Linked DNA regions of Homo sapiens: region 2 is linked to region 1. Evidence: fine-mapped expression QTL. A gene starts in region 1. The other region holds a variant in brackets. All regions are shown on one strand. Distances are between the middles of the regions.

Evidence for each region.
Region 2: its variant is fine-mapped to the expression of ZFR in monocytes after Pam3CSK4 (Quach 2016, PIP 0.95).

Annotation. Positions count from the first base shown.
Region 1 is chr5:32,440,672-32,452,338 of GRCh38, reverse strand. It overlaps ZFR (zinc finger RNA binding protein), which reads left to right and starts at 7,599. Exons shown (of 20, transcript NM_016107.5): 1 at 7,599-7,717; 2 at 8,011-8,110. The coding sequence starts at 7,681. RefSeq lists silencers at 7,297-7,986, 8,217-8,556 and an enhancer at 7,948-8,505.
Region 2 is chr5:32,618,119-32,630,300 of GRCh38, reverse strand. No RefSeq gene overlaps it. Among named protein-coding and RNA genes, the nearest start is that of LINC02061, 28 kb to the left of the region's middle. The variant CA/A (reference allele first, on the strand shown) is at 6,256.

The sequences.
Region 1 (11,667 bases):
TCCCAGTGGAGGGGGCACTTCATCAATCAGGTGGGCCGATGACTTGTTTTATAGATGGCAGTCAGCCTTTATTTTTTTTCTCAATTAGCAATAATCGCACTTCAGATAAACCCCATTGTCTATGATGTTGCTGCTGCATAAAGCTGGCCTTTTTTATTTTTTATTTTTATTTTTATTTTTTTATTTTATTTTTTTTTTTTTTTTGAGACGGAGTCTCGCTCTGTCGCCCAGGCTGGAGTGCAGTGGCGCAATCTCTGCTCACTGCAACCTCTGCCTCCTGGGTTCAAGCAATTCTCGTGCCTCAGCCTCCCAAGTAGCTGGGATTACAGGCATGTGCCTCCATGCCTGGCAAATTTTTAGTATTTTTGGTAGAGATGGGGTTTCACCATATTGGTCAGGTTGGTCTCCAACTCCTGGCCTCAAGTGATCTGCCCACCTTGGCCTCGCAAAGTGCTAGGAATACAGGCATGAGCCACCATGCCTGGCCGCAGTCAGCCTTTTAAAAACAATTTTATTTTAAATAGAGACAGGGTCTCACTCTGTTGCCCAGGCTGGTCTTGAACCCCTGGGCTCAAGCGATCCACCCTCCTCGGCCTCCCAAAGCATTGGGATTACAGCTGACACGCCTAGCAACAGTCAGCCTTTTTCCCCAGCCACCTTAGTGCTAGCCTGATGGGCTCATGTACAAAATATGTATTTAGTTTTTTAATCCTCATGTCAAATTATGAGGTTAGTACTATTATTATTTTTTCTGTTTTGTAGATGAGACCAGGGCATGAGAAGGTTAAGTAAATTCGCCAAAGTCATATTGTCAGTAAGTAGTAAAACCAGGATTTGAACATAGGTCATCTGACTCTGGTACTATACTATCCAATATAGTAGCCGCTAGCCATGTACTAGCGGTTTTTAAACTAGGGTTTTTAAAATTAAATTAAATTAAAATGTAGTTGCTGTCATACTAGCCCCATTTCAAGTGTTCAATAGCCACATGTGGCCAGTGGTTACCATATTGCACAGTGCAGAGAGAGAACATTTCTATCTTTGAAGAAAGTTCTATTGGACAGTGTTGATCTAGAGTGTGGGCTTTAAACCAATATGTCCTTCAGCATCTCCCATTGATAATCATATCAAGCTCTAAATCAGGTCACAGTGTGGCTGAGACTCTTCTCCAAGCTGCTAAACAGCGACTCCTATGGCTGCCTTGAGTCCTGTAGGTTCTTCAGGTTCCTATGAATATGTTACTGACACAAAGAAACCCTTATAACATTGGTGTTGGGGGTTCAAGCTTGGTAGCAAATAGCATTTTCTAGAATGTCAAGGGAGCTGCAAGGACTAAAATAGGTTGGCATCTGCATTTGTGGCTGGTACCATGTCAGATGGTACTTGGGGGAGGGGGAAGAAAGATATTAAAGACCTATATCATAAAACCATTACCCTCAAAAAATGGACACAAGACTAATTTCATTCATCCCCAAAATATTTATTAAGTGCATACTGTGTTCTTGGAATGGTTCTCTCTTTTTAATATTTTATTTTTTGAGACAGCATCTCACGCTGTCACTCAGGCTGGAGTGTAGTGGCATGATCTCGGCTCACTCCAACCTCCACCTCCCAGACTCAAGGGATCCTCTTACCTCAGCCTCCTGTAGCTGGGACTACAGGTGCATGCCACCATGACCAGCTAGTTTTTGTATTTTCTGTAGAGACAGGGTTTCACTATGTTGCCCAGGCTGGTCTCGAACTCCTGAGCTCAAGTGATCTGCCCGTCTCGGCTTCCCAAAGTGCTGGGATTACAGGCATGAGCCACCATGCTCGGCCGGAATGGCTCTAGGCATTGGAAATTCATTGGCAGATAAAACAGACATGGTTCCTGACCCTGTGGAGTTCATGTTCTTTCCTGGGGGAAGAGAGATATTGAGTAAGAAATGACCAGTCTGATGAGTGTTACAAAATGGGAACTATAGGATGCCCTGGAATGAAATAATTAAAGAGCCAATAATGTAAGTGCTCTAGGAGTTCATAAATGAAAAATAGCCATGTGCACTAAAACTGGAAACACAAAGGTGACTCTAGTGACCCACCAGTAATAGGACGTGTTCTTACTTTAGGCAAGTGTGAATCTTTACGAGATTTTTAGCAGGGTAATGACATGTTCAGATGTGTTTCAGGGAAGCAGTATGTCGCAGAGGTCAGGCATTCTGGAAACAGGTAGGTATAGTTTAAATCCTGCGTTTGCCACTTATCACCCTTATGAACTCACTTTTACTATCTCTAAATGGGATAATCATGATAGTACCTACCTTGTAGGTTTTTGTAAAGAATAAATGAGACAATGCATTATAATGTACACTGTTATTACTACTACTTTTTTTGTTGTTGTTGTTACAGAGTCTCACTCTGTTGCCCAGGCTGGAGTGCAGTGGCGCGATCTTGGCTCACTGCAACCTCTGCCTCCTGGGTTGGAGCAATTCTCCTGCCTCAACCTCCCGAGTAGCTGGGATTACAGGTGTGCGCCACCATGCCAGGCTAATTTTAGTATTTTTAGTAGAGATGAGGTTTCACCATGTTGGCCAGGCTGGTCTTGAACTCCTGACCTCAGGTGATCCACCCTCCTCAGCCTCCCAGAGCGCGGGGATTACAGGCATGAGCCACCACGCCCAGCCCTATTTATTTATTTTTTTAATCTTAGATCCTTGATCATTGTGTAGAGGACAGATTTGAGAGGATTAGATTACTGGGAAGAGAGACCAATTAGTGGGCTGTTGAAGTCGGCTTGGGCAAGAGATGAACTAGAGTAGTGGTTGTAGAGAGGAAAAGAATTTCAGCTATTCAGAGAGTTTGGGGGAAAAAAGGTATACCAGCAATTCCACTCCTAGGGATATACTCAGGAGAATTGAAAACATCTGTCCACACAAAAACTTGCATATCAGTGTTCATAGTGATGTTATTCATAATAGCCCAATAATGGAAGCATCCCAAACATCCATCAACTTATGAATGAATAAATAAAATGTGGTATATCCAAACAATGGACGATGAAATTTGAAAACATTATGCTAAGTGAAAGAAGCCAGACACAAAAGGCCACATTATTGTATGATTCCATTTATATGTCCAGGATAGACAAATCCATAGAGACACAAAGTAATTTTGTGGTTGTTAGGCATTGGAAGGAGGTAGAAATGGGGAGTGACTGCTAATGGGTACAGGATTTATTATGAGATGATGAAAATGTGCTTACAGTGAGCCAGGCACTGATCTAAGAGCTTTACATCTAGGAAGTCTTTAACCCCTACCAACAATCCCCTGATGAAGATACTACTTTTACCTCTCTATTTACAGAGGAGGAAGAAAAATGAAGCAGAGAGATTGTGGCTGAGGTCACAGAGCAGAAAGTGACAGAGCTGGGATTTGAAGCCAGGTGTGTCCAGCTTTAGAGTCCTTGCTCTTATTCACCTCACTATACTCCTCTTGGTATAGAGTAGCTAGTATGATGTCCTTTCTGGCTAATTTATCCGTATTTTATCAAGGTCTTTCAGGATACCACACCTTGACTCAAAGGTGTGACGGAAGACAACTATTATAGATTTATTTTTGGTGAGTTTAGGGGCTGGCTTTGTCAGGCTAGCTCTACCTTGTGGCTAATTGACTGCCAATGACATTTCCTCTTTTACCTTCAGATCCTAATTGAGGTTCATAATTATGACCCTGAGGCACTACAGGTTCTTGAACTACCTTCTGAATCATGAAAGAAAGATTAAACTGTGCACAGCGTGGTTCATTCATTCCATAAGTACTTATTGGGTGCCTACCAACAGGCACCCAATACTGGCAACCTGCCCTCGTGAAGCTTATAGTTTGATGCGAGAGAGAAATATATATTAATCATATAATCACACAATAAGTATAAGATTGCAACTGTGACAAGGGCAACTAAGAAGAGATGTCTGGTGCTCTGAGAGCATAGCAAGGGTTTGACCCATCAAGGTCACGAGGGGTTGAATGAGTTGCGATCCCCAAGCATGAGGGTAAACCAGGTAAAGGGAAGAAGGGAGAACATTCTAGGCAGGGAGAACATGCAAAGCCCCCTGGTGGGAGGGAGCATGGTGAACAGGAGGCCAAGATAGCTGGGATAGAGTGAATAAGGAGGAAGATGCTGAAAAGGCAGGTGGGCCAGGCCACAGAGTCTCGTGGGCCACATGGAAGAATTTGCTTTATCCTGAGAGATGAAAGCACAGAGGATTTGATCAGATTTGCATACCAAACCAGTTCTGGACATGAAGGATGACAATCCCTATTATAATTGGTTGCTTCTGGTCAAGTATTTCATCTTTAATTGTTGACCCAGAAGACTACGTACAGCCATGTTGCCTAGACCGGGTACTCTAGAACATAAACTCTTCCAGGGCAGAGCCACCTACTTTTGACTTGTAGGTGTGATTTGCACAATGCATTCACTTATTAGAAGGTTGATTTTAAAAGACTGACAATCGGCCTGGCACAGTGGCACACGCCTGTAATCCCAGCACTTTGGGAGGCCAAGTGGGTGGATCACTTGAGGTCAGGACTTTGAGAACAGCCTGGCCAACATGGTGAAACCCTTCTCTACTAAACATACAAAAATTAGCTGGGTGTGGTGGCGCATGCCTGTAGTCCCAGCTACTTGGGAGACTGAGGCAGGAGAATTGCTTGATCTTGAGAGGCGGAGTTTGTAGTGAGCTGAGATCGCGCCATTGCACTCCAGCGTGGGTGACAAAGCAAGACTTTGTCTCAAATAAATAAATAAAAATAAAGAACTGACAATCATCTAGCCTAGTCTTTTTACATGAAAAAGCTAGGCGTTAGGCCAGGCATGGTGGCTCACTCTCACCAGTAATCCCAGCACTTTGGGAGGCCGAAATGAGCAGATCGCCTGAGCTCAGGAATTGGAGACCAGCCTGGGCAATGTGGCAAAACTCCATCTCTACAAAAAATACAAAAATTAGCTGGGCATGGTGGCATGTGCCTGTAGTCCCAGCTACTCAGGAGGCTGAGGTGGGAGGATTGCTTGAGCCCAGGAGGTTGGGGCTGCATTGAGCTGAGATCACAACACTGCACTTAGCCTGGGCGACAGAGTGAAACCCTATCTCAAAACAAAAAAAACTAGATGTCTTACATAAATGCTGCCTCATTTAAACCCCACCAGAGTCCCATCAGGAAGATGTTATTGTTATTCTTGCCGTATGGGTTCAGATAGGTTAAATAACATGTTCAGGTTACTCCACTACTAGATGCCCAGGAAAAATATTCAAGACCCTCCAAAACTCCTTCCTTAAAGGAGCCCAAGTCAAGGGCAAGTAGGTGCGATACTGAAAGGTTGTTCCTACAGGCTGCATCTTTGAGAGTGCTGTTGTAAATAATTTTCACTACTGCCACACCTACTTTGACCCCTAAGAACCAGGGGAGAGGCCCCGTCTTCCTCTTTCTAGTTATGTGCTTGCTCATTGGGGTGTGCCAGTAGCACGCCGGCCTCCAAAGGCCTGCCAAGCAAACAAGCATAAAACTGGCCTACACAGACTCTTTTTAGGCAAGTAATCAACACCTGTCTTTTCTCCTCCAGTTTTATTCAAATAGCCTAGTAACTAATAGAGCCGGTTCATCAAAGCAGTTACAGTCAGTGTCTTGAAGCTTGACTGCTCAATGAAGTTCAAGGCAAAATACCTTTAAAATACAGTTCTAATGTCCTATGTGTAGGAGGTATTTCTTCCTAGCAACATCCTTGGGGCACAAATAACTTTTGCCTGGGAAAACATCAGTATTCTCAAAAATAATGACACTTAACTTTTCTCCAAGGTTCTACATTTTCTCTTTCTGAAATGAGTAACAGGACAAATCAGACAGGTTCTGAGAGCCTGTACTTTTGTAGGAGGCGTGGGGAGCAAGGTTGGCACAAAAAAGAATTGAGGCATTGTTTCTGCTCTGGCACAAGAAAGTAGGACAAAGCCCTGAATTTCATGGGTGGGTTCTGATTCACCCTTTGCATTTCTTTTTTTTCCTTTCCTTTTTTTTTTTTTTTTTAAGACGGAGTCTCGCTCTGTCGCTCAGGCTGGAGTCCAGGGGCGCGATCTCGGCTCACTGCAACCTCTGCTTCCAGGGTTCAAGCGATTCTCCTGCCTCAGCCTTCTGAGTGGCTGGGACTACAGGCGCCCGCCACCACGCCCGGCTTTTTTTTTTTTTCTTTTTTTTTGAGACGGGGTTTCACCATGTTGGCCACTGACCTCACCTCGTGATCCACCCGCCTCGGCCGCCCAAAGTGTTGGGATTACAGGCGTGAGCCACCGCGCCCGGCCAGCATTTCCTTTTAATGTTCATATCCAACAATGAGGAGAGATGAGGAGCAGGGAGTCTGGGGGATGGGCATGGAGAAGGTAAGGAAGAGGTGAAATGCAGGCAGTACATATGTACTTGATGGAAGACACGAAACATAAGGCCAGAGAAACTAGACGATCAGAAGAGGGACTGGAAGAGGAAAGAGAATGGTTGAAAACGAACTGAGAAACTAAAGGGAAGAAAGCGAGGAAACAGAGGGAAAGAGGAAATGCTTACATGGGGGCAAGTACTGTTCTGTCCTTACCACTAAAGATCTGGCACGTGATCTGGTCTCCCTCTCACTTGACTCCAGCCAGACTGATCTTCTTGCTCTTGAACATTCATTCCTTCATCTGGACCCTTCCACTTGCTGCTCTTCCTGCAGGCATCTCCCAGGCCTGTCCTTCCTTCCTTCAAGTGGTCTCCCTAACCACACTCTACATGAAATAGCACCTCCCTTACCCTTATTTTCCTTACTCTGCTTTATTTATGCTTGAAGCTCCAGTCACCATCAGACAGAATTTCTGTGTTTTGGCTACCGGCTGTTGGCTGACATATACCCGCTCCTAGAACGTAAACTCCACGGGAACAGGGACTTTGTTTTGTTCTCTGCCGTATCTCCAGCACCTACAACACTGCCTGACACCCTGCTGGGTGACCGATATACGCCGGATGGCTCAGGGAGTGGGTGCAGGTCGAGGAAAGGGTATAGCAAGAGGTATGTCCGGGAGGGATGTTTAGGGTGTGCTTTTAGTCCAACAGAAAAGCACTCTCCATCCTTTTTCTATTTCTCTCCTCTCCTTCTCCCTCCCTCCGCACTTCAGAGGTTGGGGAAAAGCTGCGGGAAAGCAGGAAATAAGGAAAAATCCTAAATTGCCCAGCTCGAATTCCAATGAAAAATTAATGAGCGAGGAAGACAGGGAGGCAGGGAATAAGTGCACATGCAAAAGTTAAGGAAGCCAGTGGAAAGCAAAGAAAAAGGCGAACAGACGTCACTCTCTCTGGTCACGCTCCCCGACTCCCCAGAGGACAGGCGAGGCGCTTCTGGCACACGCCCCCGTCGCCCCGCGGCCGCGCGGCGTCACCACCACTTCGGAGAAGGCCAGGCCCCTCTTCCCCCGCGGGCTTCCCCGCGCCCGCACCGCCGAGGCCCCGGCACGCGCCCGGGGGAGCCGCGAAGACGGCGGGGACTACAGCTCCCAGGATGCCGAGCACAGGCGCGCCTGCGCAGTGCGGTCGGAGGCGGCGGTCTGTTCTCCGCTGAGGAGGAGCGGGGCAGAGGAGGGAGGCAGCGGGTGAGAGTTCAGAGTTCAGCAGCAGCAGCCCGAGCCCATGATTCCCATATGCCCTGTAGTTTCTTTCACCTATGGTGAGTCTAATGTGGCCCGCGAGGCCTCTGCCCGGCCCCCTCCCTGGCCCCGGGCAGCGGGGAGCCGCGGGGGTTGGGGCAGGCTCCGGGGAGGAGGCGGCGGCCGCCACCCGGGCGTGCGAGTGAGTGAGGGAGTGCGAGGCGGGAGGGGGAGGCGGCGCGGCCGCGGCCTGGGCCCCGCCAGGGCTGCTCTCACGGCGCCTCTCTCTTTCTCTCCCTGCCCTCCCTCGGCGTCTCGGCTCCTCTGTGTCTCTTGTCCCGCCATGGGACCCGACTCTTCGTGCCCGCCGCAGTGCCCAGCCGGCTGGGGGAAGATGCCAAAATGGCGACCGGCAACTACTTTGGATTCACCCACAGCGGGGCGGCGGCGGCGGCGGCTGCGGCCCAATATAGGTAACGGCATCCTGCCTTCTCTCTGTTCGCCCCTTGCTCTCCCCTCGGTCCGGATCCTGTCGATGCGACGCCCCCGCGCCCGTCCCCAGCCATCCCAGAGCCCCGGCCCGCTGCAGGCCTGGCCCGGCCCAGCCCGGCGGCCTCTCCCGCCCCGCCCCGCCCCGCCCCGCCTTGCCCGGCCCGGCCCGGCCCGCGGCGGGGAGCGGCCCCCAGTAGGGGGGAGGTAGAGACGGCGGAGGTGTAGGGACGTGGAGGCCTCAGGGCCCTTCAGCGGCCCCTTAACTAAAATGGCCTCCTGCGGCCGCCGAGCGGAGCCGCCACCGCCGCCCGGCAGGCCCCCCAGTCCCCGCCTCCGCGCGTCCAGCCCCCACCTCCCATCTTCTTCCCACTTGGGGGATGGAGAGGGTGGCTGAAGGGACCTCACGGGGAGTGCCGTGTCGCAGGTCCACTGGCTTCTCGTGCGACGCCTCTCTGCGTCGTCGCCTGGTGCTTCAACCCCCGGAGCCCAGATAACGTGTCGTTGTCTCGGGTACCTTTTCCTCCGCCGTGGGGCTTCTTCCCCAGACGCTCCATCGCTAGCGAGTCCTGCTGACAAACTGCGGGTGTCACTGTGTTCATCGGGTTCCTTTAGTTTTTCCTGCAAGGAGAGAGATTCACATACCAACCACCTGTAAATTGTGTAGTTCTTAGACTGGAAAAGATGTGCGAAGTTTCTAGTGCTGATAAATGAGTGCCCAGCCTTGTTTGAGCTATGGAGTTTAGGCCCCAGGTGGGCCTGTCATTCTCCTTGCGGGGGTCTTTCCCCTGCGGGGAATGGTGGGGAGGGAAGAAGATGCAAGTGAGATTGTACTGAGTCATTGTAATGCACCGGATGAAATCCCTGCTTTAAGGGAAGCTCTCATTTCTGAAGTCTGTAGTTCATTATACATCTTACCAAAGACAAACACAACAGTGGATTGTTAAATTGTTACTTTTGAGTCAATCTGAGACTTTTGATTCAGGCCATAAGCGCACACGGCTCCTGCGTGATATGCTTTTTATGTATGTTAGATGTTGGTTAAACCCAGGCAGTTTTTTTCATTTGATTTACTTCAGGAGGCACGGTGTTTAATGGAAAGGGCATCATTGGGAGCCAGAAGACCCGAGTTCAGTCTCTTTTGCTCTTGATTTTTTTTTTTTGAATAAATAATTTTTCTTAGAGAGAAAGGACCTATGTTGCCCAGGCTGATCTCGAACTCCTGGGCAGAGTCCTGCCTCGGCCTCCCAGAGTGCTAGGATTACCGGCATGAGCCACCACACCTGGCCTCTTTTGCTCTTGATTTTATGACGTTGGGAACATCATATAGTTGGGTTTTCATGTTCATCATCTGTAAAATGAGATGCTGGGCAAACTATCTTTTTGGGCTGAAACTTGTGGTTTTGAGAAACCAAGTTACTGTTTTCCATGGCATCCTAAGATGCCATTTGTTGTAAAAGGTACCATTATTGTATGTAGCACTAAAAAAAAATGCTGCCAGTTAAGACACTGCTTAAGACTCCATTAAGAGATGTCAAAATGTATAAATGTGCATCATATTGGTGAAACTAGATTTTACTAATTGTTGAATGCCATGTGGCATTTTACAAGTGTTTTTTCATGAGGCCTGCATTCCAGAAAAAGCACTGAGATGACAAATTATTACAGCAAAATCTTGGGGGCATTTCAAGTATTAGCAAATCGTTTGCTTATAATTTTTGATAATTAGACAAAAAAAGTTTCAGCTACTTTGATAAAACTTTTTAGGACTTTTAAAAAATTCAACAGCTTTTTGGGGTACAAGTGGTTTTTGGTTACGTGGACTAATTATATAGTGAATTCTGAGATTTTAGTAGGGCTAATAATTTTCAAGGAGAGGAAAAAACCATCTTTTTCTCAGAAGAGATAGCTAATCAGCATCTGTGCCATAAATCTGCTGGCAATTACTAGTATTCCGTCTAGAAAAGATTGTGTTTAACCATTAAAATTTTACTTGTTTTACTCAGGTTTTTTCTGTTTTCCTCATATGGGCTGAGTGATAAGATTTGTTGAATTACTAACTTTATTTACTGTAAAGTGGTGGGTTCTTTGTGGCACTTCTGAAATGTTTTTCCTAAATGCAGACCTACAGATAGAAATGAAGAAAGGAAATGCTGATTTAAAGATAATTAATAATTTTTTGATAAAATATTTATGTGATTGTTTTATCCCAGTATAGGGAACTGTGACAGAATTTCTGTTTCTAATAATTTTTTTTTTGGCCTTGAAACTGAAAAGTTTAAACTGTAACAACAATCCAGGTTACTAAATTGATTAAGTGTACATCTGATGAGAAAAGACTAGTCTTTTGACATTACTTATATTGCTAAAACTTAGGCACTCTTGTACATAAGGCCTTGTATATAAACATAGTACATGAAAAGTGTTTGCATTTAATGGCAAGAAATCAGGCCCAATAATACTGGGAATTTTGGCAAGGAAGATGAATGAATAACATTAATAACAAAAGCACATGCAAAAAGTGTGGTGGTGATGCTAATTTTTCTTCCTGGCTGGAAATAATTATAATGGAACTTTTAGAGATGGAAGACCAAGGTCTACTTTACTAATATTTTTTCAAATTTGAAGATCTCAAACTCAGGAAAATCTTAAGTACAGTTCACGCCTGAAAACATATGCAGTTTTTTTTTTTTTCCAATCAAATTTGGATAGAAAATAGAGTATTCATGGAGGGCCAACTTTTTGTATTCGCAGGTTCCACAGGGCCTACTGTGGGACTTTATGTATGGATTTTTGTATACGTAGCGGTCCTGGAACCAATCCCCTGCTTATATGGAGGGATGACTGTATTTATGTGTGAATGATGTGATTGAATTGCTTCACCTATCATTGAATACAGATAAAGTAAACATCCTACACCTAAATGTAATTCCAGAGGCCAGGCGTGGTGGCTCACGCCTGTAATCCCAGCACATTGGGAGGCTAAGGCGGGTGTATCACCTGAGGTCAGGGGTATGAGATCAGCCTGACCAACATGGCGAAACCCGGTCTCTACTACTAAAAATACAAAAGTTAGCTGGGCATGGTGGCGGGCACCTGTAATCCCAGCTACTCTGGAGGCTGAGGCAGGAGAATCGCTTGAACCGGGGAGGTGGAGGTTGCAGTGAGCCAAGATCGCGCGATTACACTCTGGCTGGGCAACAGAGACAGACTCCGTCTCAAAATAAAATACAATAAAAGTAATTCCAGCTCTTAGTTTTCTTGATTACAGTTCTGTAAGATATTTGATTAAATTTATTTTAGATTTAGACTTTTTAGCTTGTTAATATTTGAGATTCATAATGGCACACTAAAGATCAGATTCTTTAAGATGTAAAGACCTGTAATAATGAATTTGTCAAGTATGGCTACTAGTAACTTGTAGATTAGTTACCACATTTTTCATTTGTGTTCATGCATATTAGACAATTTTGTGGTAAGCGTTTCTCAGTCTTGTGTTCTAAGTCCCATAAACTATGGAATTTTTTTTTTCCTGTTTTGT
Region 2 (12,182 bases), 180 kb before region 1:
GCCCTTTCCCGGGAAGGAGGTAGGGGGCAGGCTGACAGGCGGGAGCCAGGTCTCTGTCTCATGGGGAAAGCTGGTTGAAGAGAATTAAATAGACCCAAGGACGCAAGAGTCATGCAGGAAAAATAAACTTTGACAGCATTTAAGTCCCTGGAGAAGCATAAGGTCAGTGGTTCCAAGTGTGGGCTCAGAGTCAGACTGCCTAGGTAACCTTGGGAAACTGAACCTCTTTGAACCTGAGTTTCCTCTTCTGTAAAAGATAATGATAGTACTTAGCTCATGGAACTGTTGTGAGGATTGAATGAATTAATGCATGAGAAGCATGCTGAACAGTGCCTGGCACATGGTTGTCTCACAATAAATATTAATTATTATCAGCTGCTCCAGTTGTCCAGGAGGCTATCTCTACCCTTGTCCTGACTTTGATTTGGTGACCGGAGCAAATGGTTTTCTCTTTTTGCCTAAGCTAGTGTTTGGTCTCATTACTTGCAACCCAAGTCCGGAGGAATGTAGGATTTCCCTAAATTCATCAGTTTCATGAGTGGCTCTATGAAAAAAAAAATGTCCATAATCAGGTAAGTTTGAGAAACTCTTGGATATTCATTGCATTTTAATTTATATGTTGTTCCTTCTTTGAGAGTCACATTGTATTTTAATATCTTAAAGCCTCTGAGCGACCCTATGGTTAAAAAGCCAGTTGAACTTCTTTTATTTAACTGTGATTTCCTTTTTTCTTGTGATCTTTTTTTCCTATTCTGCAAAACTAACATTTCACAGAATACACTTTGGTGTGTTGAACAGAAAATCCAGATAAGAAAACTGAAGAATTTGCTGAGCCTCAAGTTGAACCCAGAGCTGTTTAATCTAAAATGGATGCTCTTTGACAGTTCTGCACCCATATACATACACACACCACAATTACCATTAATCATTTGAAAGGTAAGTGCTAGACACACTGATTTTGAGTTTGCCTTTCCATTGCAAGTGTTATTTCCCCAGACAGCACAGTTTGAAGTGCTTGCCTTTGCAGATTCACATATACCATGCAAAATTAAGTAGCAGAATTAAGGTTTTTGAAAACAATTTTTCCCTGGTGGTCTAGCGGCTAGGAAAAAATAAGCATTTAAATATAAAAAGAAACAATTTTGAAGAAAAATTATCAGACATGCAATGGCCTCTTTGGTGAAAAATGACAAGAAAGATAGCTTTTCTTTTCTGCAGCAAGAGCCCATTGTGGAAGAAACGCTAGCTTGGGAGATGTTTTCATTCTAATTCACACTGTCAGACACCTTTGTCTTCATTTGTAAAATGGCCAAAGTATTGCATAAGTCACTCACATGTCCCTCTGAGCCAAATTCTAACTTCTGATTATCCAAAGCTATGGGCCTTGAACTGTAGGTCAAATATGGGCAAGGTATATCATTATTACTATTATTATTATTATTATTGTTGATTGATTGATATCAATTGTTGGGCCCTTAGAATTGTCAGAGGGGACGTTTAGACCAAGGGAGAAATCTAGTTCCCTCTGGCAGCCTTACAATGTAAATTAGACTGAGTTGCATAACAGTTTTAGGTATCTGATATGAGACTTGCCAAATTTCATGGCTTCAGGCACACGGAATGTACATCTCTGTTCCAGGGAGGCTAAATATTTTTCCAAATCAGTAGATAAAACAAACTCCCTGACCTCAACTTACTTCCTGGCGCCTGGAGTCCTGAGTAGCTGATGAAGAGTGTCTGTCTGCTATCAAGTGACAGGACACATTCAGACTGGCTCCTACACTCAAGACCATGTGGTACCTGATCCTGTCTCCATCTTCCGAGCTAAGATTTTGGACACAACCTGAAGATCTAAGTCCAGAGGGCAGTGGGCCAGGGTTAGATACCATGAAATGCCATTGAATCAGCCTTGAAGGGCAACTGTGGCTTCTTAGTGCATGAGGCAATGTGCTGCAGCCAGAGGCCGGTGAAAGCAATGATCACAGACCCAGGGCAAATCACATCACTAACGTCATCTCTGAAATGGAGAGGTGGCTACATCACTGACTTAAGTAAATACTATGCACAGACTTGAGACCTTACACAGCCGACCAAGCAGGGAGCTAATCCATCAAAGGGAACCTGAAGCTTCTGACCTACAAGCTTGTTGAGTGGACACCTTCACTATTAGACAGTGGCATCTACTGACTGTTACACACCGCCACCTTGCAGATCAAATAAGAATTAGCTAAGCCTGAGGATTCAAAGAATTGTTAAACGGGGGATGGGAGGATTCCCATGGATAGTTTAGTAAGAGCTGGAATAAATTAATAGCAGAAGAGAGATCATTGAGGTTGGAATGTGTTTTAGAGTGTTATACACACTTAATACAAATTAATTTCATAACCTCACAAAGTCCTCTGAGTCTTTCCCAGAGAGGTACTGTAGATTCATTAGGCATCGTGTTAGAACTTTTCTGTAATCATCAGGCCATTCTGATGCATTCACCTTGAGGTTTTCCCTTTCCAGGCAATCCCATCTGCCTTTTAGACTCATGTGCTTGCACTGATGTGCACATGCATGCTTTTCTCCCCTTTCTCTCCTCTCCTTGCCTCATCCCCCTGTGAATAAGCCACATTTAATCAAGAAGCATGAGTTTCCATTTCTTGTTTTCATTGAGTCATCTAAATAACTTGCTTTCTGGCTATTTCCTGCAGAAGCCAGGAATCCACACCGCCATATTTTCCCCTTCACGTACAATTTCATATAGCTGTAAACCACCCAGCAGCTCAGGTCCTGCAAGACACACAACCCCAATTCATTCCTAACTGCACAGCTGCCCTTCTCCCTACCAAGGCCACTAAGCTAAACCACCTGCTGTGGGCTCCTTCAAGGAACTGTTCATCCCAGCAGAGGTCCTGACCATAAACCTTTTGGAGCGGGGAGAGCGTCACTTGCCTCTCTTCAATCCCTCAGGACCTCTCTGGTGCACTATGCTCACAAGTGGACCTTGACAAATGCTTACTGGGTGAAAGAATGATGCAGAGGCTTGTTTTAATTCCAAGACATCAGTGAATTGAGAAGATTTTGCTCACAGCTATCATCGTGCTCAAATACACCAAACTGGAACCATGGAAATTAAACACTCAAAGAAAAACTGAGTCTGCCTTCCTGGCTTTTGCTGTCATCATTGTTCTTATACTACATATGAAAGGATTTATCGTATATCTCCAAGATTAATGTCCTCTCCCTATAAAACAATGTTATCTGTTTGATCAGGCTTTTCTTCCTCTGTCTTCCTGGCCTATCCTTTTGTATCCTATCCCCTCCCCACTCATTGCCTTTCCCGCACCTTCCCATCACCTCGGCCTTGCCCGGGGTCTCGTCTATCGTGTTTCTGTAGTTTTCTCTTTCAGAGAGTGGGTCTAAGTTCTTCAAAGGGAATGTGCAAAGCAGATCCTGAGCACTGAGAGTCAGGAACTGGATTGGAAACCAGCATTGTCTCCCCAGACCTCAGACTGAGGACCTGCTGTAAAGAGTGACAGCAGGAGGCTGAGAATTATAGCTTCAGTTGGTTTACAAAAATTAATGAGAACTTGTTTTTTTTTTGGCCAAGTTTCTCTTTCATGAACTAAAACATTTTCTATCGATTTTTATTTGGTAGATAAAAATGCAAGTATGAAAACAGAATTTAAAAAAAAATGTTACAAAGATTGAATATTCATAATATCTAAGTGTAAATATTTTTAGACCTTTCATTATTGCTTGCAACTATGGGTGAGCCTATAGGCGTTTTAGGGTAGATTTTCATGTTGTCTAATGTTGTTTAGTGCTTAGGAAAAATAGGTTATCCAAGCAAGTTCTGATCTGTTTTTCAGTCTCATCCCTTTTGATGTCATTATTGGAGGCACTGGATGTCTGTCATGTGGGAAGAAGGATGCAAGAGGGAATAGGCTGATGTTGAAAGGAAAGATCACCTAGGGCCCAGATAAAAAGGTGACACGTGAACTACGTATTCCACAAACAGGGCCTAGCATACTTAATCTCAAACGCTGGAAAGACACACGTGACTCACCCCTTAGCCACATCGATGGTACAAGGTAGTGATGACTCCTGGGAAGGGGCTGTCATGTTACTAAATGTCCAGGGACATTCTGGCATGTTTGTCATGCTGGAGTTCTGCCTCCATGGCCAACTATGGCCTACTCTGAGAGGGGTGGGTGGTCACAGCTGGTGTAACCAGCTAGGCGGAGAACGGGAACTAGGGAGAGGGAGCTCAGGCATTCTCTCAGGCTAGAACTTGGCAGGTTCAGGTATCTTCAACATCACAGGAACTGAGGAGTGAGGAAGCTCTCACCAGTGAACCATAAACAGGGAAGATTTGTCCAAAGGCTACTGTGCTCCCTGGTGCCATCAGTAAGTCTCTGCCTTTGGTCATTCCATAGCTTTGAGGAAAGCCTCTCCTGAATAACAGAGCCTTGGCTGGGCTGGGCTCTAAGGCATTAGTGAAAGACCCGTGCTTCTCTGTTTAAATCAGCTTTATTCAAAAGGAAATGATAGTCCCCACTCCCATCCCTACTCCACCCAGGGTGGAGGCAGTGGCAGGACTGCACATGAGATCCTCCACAGGACCGCGAGCCTTGGGGGACAAACACCAGGCTATGAGATCCAGCTGCTCCTCCCCGCAGGACACTGTCTTACTAACATTAACTTCGAAGGACCTGGTTATTATTTTTTATAACATTGGGGGTGGGAGATAATTACTTACAGACACTACTGTTTCCTAAATGAAATCTAATAAGTAATATGTAAATAAAAGAAAGCAATTCCCCAGCCCCTGGAGTAATATTGCTGTATGCTGAGTGCTCATTAAAACTTAAAATATCCACGAACTAATGCAAGTTCTCCCAAAGACTGACCACCCTGGGGAAAAAAGGCATCTCAACAAACAGTGATAGTTTGAACAAAATACAGCACATGCTCCAAGGTTCCAAGAGGGAAGGGACCACACGATGGAAAGATGGTAGCATGCTTGTGGTTTAACAGCATTTCCTTTTCCAGAAAACATCAGCATTCTGAACGAGAATTTAATTCTTGTATTTGTAAACACCTCAGTGGTATCTTACAGTATTACACAATAAGCTACATATTCCATTTTTAATCCTATGACTTTTATTTTTGATTTTTTTTGTTTTGTTTTTGTTTTTGTTTTGAGATAGAGTCTTGCTCTGTCACCCAGCCTGGAGTGCAACGGTGCTATCTCTACTAACTGCAACCTCCGCCCCCCAGGTTCAAGCGATTCTCCTGCCTCAGCCTCCTGAGCAGCTGGGACTACAGTGCCACCATGCCTGGCTAATTTTTGTATTATTAGTAGAGACAGGGTTTCACCATGTTGGTCAGGCTGATGTCAAACTCCTGACCTCAGGAGGTTACAGAGACTTGAACTTTAAGACATGGCAAATGTTTACAGTGTTGAATTAATAAAACAGATACTTTCTGTACAATGATCTTTACTTCTGATAAGTTGAAAACTGTTTCTAGCCTTTGTAGGTCAGAACAATGGATTGGATATGTAATAACTTTTATCACCTACCAAAAGGATGGTTATTCATTAAGATAATCAACATCTCTGTAACTAACTAAATCATTTTCCCCTCATCCATTCCTTTTATTGAAATGTTTGTGTTTTTATTTCAAGATGTATTCCTATGCTATGATTTTGGGGTCTTACAATGAAAATTTCGGGAGCAACTAACAACTGTCTGTGCACTGGAGCACAGAAACAATTTTCCTCTTCCTTACCTGTGGAAGAATCATAGCACAACCGTGAAATGATGACACGCTGAAACGTAAGACCACTGGGGAAATCCCTGTACCTAATTCGGGCTCCTTCATACTTGGGGGCCTATCCCTACCACTGCTCTCTATCAGCCTGTGTGTAGATTGAAGATCTCTTGACTTTGACTCCTAAAATAAACAACAAAAAGGATTTTTGGTATGTTTGTTTGTTTGACCCCTACCACAGTCTACTTGTTCTGCCCATTTCTGGAAGAAACTCAAACCCAGGTTCTATCCTCCTACAACCAATATTCCTACAATCCCCTTGTCTTCATGGAAGCTGATTCCACAGATGCTGTTTTAGGTGCAATGGTTTGGTCCATCTGCAGAATTTGAACTTCAGTGGCTATAGGGCTCCAATGTGGTTAGGTTTTTAGTTTTTTGTTCTTTTTTATTAGCCTACATAATGTTAACATTTTAAAAATTCATTATCAATGT[CA/A]AAAAAAAAAAAAGAAAACAAAAAAAGGAAAGATCTGGCATCTCTGGGCATGCATTTCCAAACGGCCGAACAGTAGCTGCCCCCTTAAACCAGGCATGGCCTCTTCAATTTGAGCCAGTCCCTGCCACTCCTGCAGCTCCCTGGCCACCTCATTCCTTTTCTTTCCCTGTCTGCTTCCTGGAGGCTGATGAGCCCAAGACCTCTTATCTGCACCAATGTTACCGGTGGAGGGTGTCTGGGTTCTTGGCGTCTTGAACAAAGAATTGGGCAAGATGCACAAACAAAGCAAGGAAAGAATGAAGCAACAAAAGCAGAGATTTATTGAATGAAAGTACACTCCATAGAGTGGGAGTTGCCCGAGCACAGGGGCTCAAGAGCCCCATTACAGAATTTTCTGGGGTTTAAATACCCTCTAGAGGTTTCCACTGGTTACTTGGTGTACACTCTATGTAAATGAAGAGGATGAAGTAAAGTTACAAGTCATTTACTCAGTGTATGCCCTATGTAAATGGAAAGGATATTTCCTGTCATAGCTGAAGTGTTTCCATTTGATTTAGTTCTAGGAAGTCAGCTTGCATCGCCTTATGTTCCCCGCTTCCAGACCCCATTCTCCTGCCTCACCAAGAGCTTGATTAGTAGATCAAGTGAGCACAGGAATGCCCACCCCACATTTACACAGTTGCTGTCTGGACCTGCAGCGTCCAGTAGGGTAGCCACTAACCATACATGGTCACTGAGGTCGTGAAATGTGGCTATTGTGACCACAAAACAGAATTTTTAATTTAAATGTAAAATGATCACATAAAGTTCTATAGGACGGTTCTGGTCTGGACCATGAGAGATTATAAGATTGAAAGATTTTGTTAACCACATGCAAATGCTAGTCTGTTATTATTTTCCTCGGGATCAGAATAGGCACCTTCATTGTAGATGCTCTTTAGGGAGTCCTTGCATACCATCAGTACTCTGTATCTTACTGAGCAGAGAAGCTGATCGAGCCAAACAACTCAAAACTCCCCAAACTCCTTTCCTCTCTCTTCTACTCCCAATGCCCAGGGCACAGAAAATCACTAGAAGTAATTTATATGTTGAAATTTAAGAGGACCCAAAGTAACTGATCTTCAGAGCCTTCCTTCTCTACTTGCTTGCCACCTTGCTTTCCAATCATTTGAGATCATGGAGGACACTTGTGGAAAGCACAGAGGGTTCCTGGGAGACGTCTAATACATGGGCCCTTTCTCACTTGTTGGGCTCAACTGCGGATACGTACTCTATGGACTGGCCTAGCAAACAGAGCAAATCCCTGAGAGAAAGAGACAAAAGGAATTTCTATGAAGAAGGTATGAGTTGATCTTGAGGCTTTTCCTGAGAGAATCAGAGCCCAATTAGGATGCCAGTGGAAGGCAGGGACCCTCAGGGAGCAATAGCAGTAAAGGGAACAGCCCCAAAGGCACAGTGGAGTGCTTAGGGAGGAGCAGAGACCAAAGGCAGGCTCAAAGGCTTCCCAACGCCGTGTGAGAAGGGGCTGTGGTCTCCAGCAGCTGTGTGGTGCTTGTGTTTGCATTAAAATGCTTGGAACAGAAGCTCTTTCCCTACTGTGCCCTTCTGCTCCCAAAATACAACCAAAACCTCTCCTCTCAACTCCTTCTGGGTGATTTATAAAACAAATTACAACCAGTGAAGACTTGGAGGATGAGTTCCTGAGCACTGGCGAATATGGAAATATGGCTGGTTATCCCACATATTGAATTTGTTTGATTACCCACTTGTCTTACTGTATTGTCATAGGCCCACTGAGAAGGAGAAAAGCAAGAATAATCCCTTACATAGCATCTTCTATATATGCTCAGACATGATAAATCGTTCACTTCACTTATTCCCTTAATGATACTGTTACTAATATCCCTTTTCCACAAATGAGAAAATTGAAGCTCAGAGAAGCTAAGCAACTTGACAATGGCCCCACTGCCAACAAGTGGCAGAGCCAAGGCTCAAACCCAAACTCAAATCCTATGCTTATGTCACGGTCAGGACGTTATAAGACAACACTATACAAGTAAACGAAGCTATCTATCTTCTTGTGAAAAATGGAGTCATTTCTGAAAGCAAACACCAGGAGTACACCACGAAGGCGTCTGGATGAATTCTGAGGCATTCTGAAACACGCTAGTGTCTGGAAAGGCAGGTGGGGTCTCCGCAATGCCCTGGTGTGGAGACTTGGCATCTGTACTAGCCAGTGGGCACTGCTACTGCACCCTAATTCCCTGAGAGCTGTCTCCCCGTTCCTGACTTCAGGGAGTCCCTGCAACCGTGAAGCAAAGCACATGCAGCTTCCCGAATTTCATTTTTAGAGGTTTTCATCTTTCCCTTAAAACATTCCAGAATTCAGATTGATTAAGTTCATCGATGCAGAGAAATGTTCTTTAATACTTGGCTCTCCTCACGGTGCACATCCCCGCACCCTAAGGGGAGCTTGCCCTGTGGACATGCTTGGAAGTGTACCATGGATTACAGCTGATTTTGCTAGGATTTCCATGAAATTTCCTGACTGTAGGACTTGCGAAACTTTGGAAATTGAAGTTCTGTTGCCAGAGGAGTTTGTGGAATTGTGTTCTGTGGAAACAGAATTATGGGATTTTAAGCCTAGAAAAAATCTTTCAAGTCCGCTCCTGCCAAAGGCCAGGCTGAGTGCGAACGCTTGCTGAGAGATGCCATGGCTGTAACATGCTTCTCCTTCCCAGCATGTAGCTTTCACCTGCAAACAGACACGTGTAAAAAGAAAATTCATAAATATTTCCTTTACCCAATTCTCTTCTTCATCTTTTCAGTTTATTATTTATTTTCCTTTTGGAAACAGCAACTACGCTCAGGTTTCTAACTGGATTTCACCTTGTCCATGCCAAATCAAGAAAAAACGTATATGAAAAAGTAACTACAATGGGACTGAGAAGAGGGGGAGCAGGTAGGCTGGTGAGGACTCGCTCCCTCAGTCTGTGCCGTCTGCTACAGGGAGGAGGCTCCCACCTCCTCAGTACCCCCAGGTCTGTTACCCGCCCTGAGCCCAAGAGGAAACAGTGGCCTGAGTCTGCAGCACCTGCCTCTCCCTTTGGATCAAGTGATCACACTGTGCTGGCCTCAATCAGAAGCTGCGAGAGGGATGGGAGCAAGGCAGATGTTGAAAGAGAAGTGGGTTTGGAATAAAATCATTGCGCATGCCCTCTTCTTTCCTTGGACGCCTGTGTGGCTCGAATGCGCCTGAGACCTCCAAAAAGCAAGCACAAGACTTGGCTGCAAATCACTGTGATTACCAAAACCTTACAAACAGTGGCAGGGAATTATTCTGGTCTTGGCTGTGCTGTGGGGAATTAAGGGACATAAGAAGGAGCATTGAAGCTGGGGTGGGGGGGCAGGGGAATATGACTCCCCATAAGGCAAAGGAGACCATGACAACTGTCACTAATAGGAGGACGTAGGGAGAAATGCGCCGGCAATGGAGCAGCCTGCAGGGAGACTTCCTCCTCATGGCCTCCTGGAGAACCTTGGGTGGATTTTTTCCAGGGCACTAGTGGGTTTCCTGACAGGTCCTCATGTGAAAAGAAGAGTTGACCTTTCCTTTTTAGCTCCTAAAGCATAAACTAAGGTGACTCTATGGAGCAACAAACTACAGCTCAATATATAGAGAGTCATTCGGAAAATTACAGACTTCCAAAGATAGAATTGTCTCCTGAAGCTATAGTGACCTCCCATTGTCTCAAATGTTCAAATAGAAAGTCATTCTGGGGGGAAGCGAGGGAGGAACAGGTGGAGTGCAGAGGATTTGGGAGCAGTGGACATACTCTGTGTGATACCATGATGGTGGACACGTGTCATTATACATTTGCCCAAGCCCGCAGTATGTATGGCACCACGAGGAAACCCTCATGAAAACCATGGACTCTGGGTGATGTTGGTGTGTCAATGGGTAGGTTCGTCGATTATAACAAACGCTCCACTCTGGTAGGGGATGTGATAATGGGGGAGGCTGTGTATGTGTTGGGGCAGGAGACATATAAGAAATCTTTATCTTCCTCTCAATTTTGCTGTGAACTTAAAACTCTAAAAAAAAAAATAAGTCTTAAAACAAAAAGTCAGTCTGAAAAGCAGGTAAGAATAAGGAATTCCTTGGTCAGTTGTGAGGTTTGATTGGTTGACCTGTGAGTTTCTTACATAAATTAGAGAATACTGGAGCTAGAGAAGTACATCTTAGAAGGTAATCCTTCCAGACATGTTGTTCTAAAACTTTGATCTGCTTTCTTTCTAAACAACTAGACTTACTTCTCTTGAGCTTGCTCAAAGACGTGTCCCCTCCCTACCCTGCTCACCAAACTCTATGATGAATTGGTCATCCCTGAAGGAAAACCTTAAAGAATAAGACGAATGACTTCATATGGGACTGGCCTTTGCATTCATGTCCATAGCAAAGAGGAATTCAAACACCAGGAACTTGTCAATTGATAGCAAAACTTAGACTCAGTTTCATAAAAATGTCTAAAAGCTATGTTATATGAGGTCTTAGGCAATAGATGTATCCTCTGAAAATCTCAAAGTGAGGATGTAGAAAAATTGGAACTCACATACACTGCTGACATGGATGTAAAATGGTACAGCAACTTAGAAAACAGTTTGGCAGTTCCACAAAATATTAAGCATGGAGTTAGCATGACCAACAATGACCCAACAATTCCACTCCTAAAGTCTCTGAACCACTTATCATTTTCCAAAATTCTTCCATGTATTTGTTTAGTAGCTTGTTGTCTTTGTCATCCACCAAAACTTATCTGTCCAGTAGAAAGGCCACTGGCCACACTCCAAGTGTTCAGCAGCCACATGTGGCAGTGGATACAGATTGGACAGCACAGTACAATCATCACTGTCAGAACGTCCTGTTGGATAGCACTGCACTGGAATGCAAGCTAGGTTAAAGCAGGCTCCTTATTTGTCTTGGTCACTGCTATTTCTCCGGCATCCAGAACAGTGACTGACACATAGTAGGCTCAATAAAGGGTAAGTAATGAGTGAATGAACTGAAGTTGAATGAATGAACAGCACTGGGTGGACAACAACAACACTGGAAAAGGAGGTGAAGGAATGCTGGAACAATACGAACAGGGGTGAAAATGGAAGCAAGAAAATAAAGTATTTGTTTAGGTTCTTCTTGTCATCGCTTTACTCCAGTATCTTATAATTTAATCATGATAGTCTCAAGAGAGTATTTTAATTATTGGATCTTAGTATCTTTCCTAGTATTCTCCTATTGGAGAATGTGTTGAGTAACATAATTTGACAAATGACATACCACTGTGAAAATGTATAGAATGTTGTGAATTTGTTAGTTTGCCATTAATTTCATTTCCAATTCCAACAGGGAGTACTACTGACATGGTAGAAATTTAGGTTGATAAAGAGCCTTTGACTCCTAGAGAATGTTTTAATAGTCATTCACTTTTATCAAACTTCAGAGGTCATTCTTATTTTATAGCTTTTTTCTGTAAATAATACTGAGTTCTAAAAATAGAAATTAAAAGATAAAAATCATTCAATAAACAGGTGTCATTTCATTGTTTTCCTAGTTTGTTCTTGTTTTTTGTTTTCATTTGGTTTGGTCTGTTTATATTGGGTGTTGAGACTGAAAATTTTTACTCAAGGTCTGATTGTAACTTTGCTACCATCCTCTGGCAAAATAATGACCATCTTAGGATCTTTGACTAGAATGAGTTTCCACAATTTTGTTTATTTCATGTTATAAACTGCTTTCACTTGCATCCTACTGCAGCTAAAAGCAAAAGCTATTAAAAGGCAACGATAGCAGAGGAAAACAAGATCACAGAATCTCTGTTCTCTAATACCTGAAGAAATGCAAAATTTTAAATGTTTTAATACCTGATAT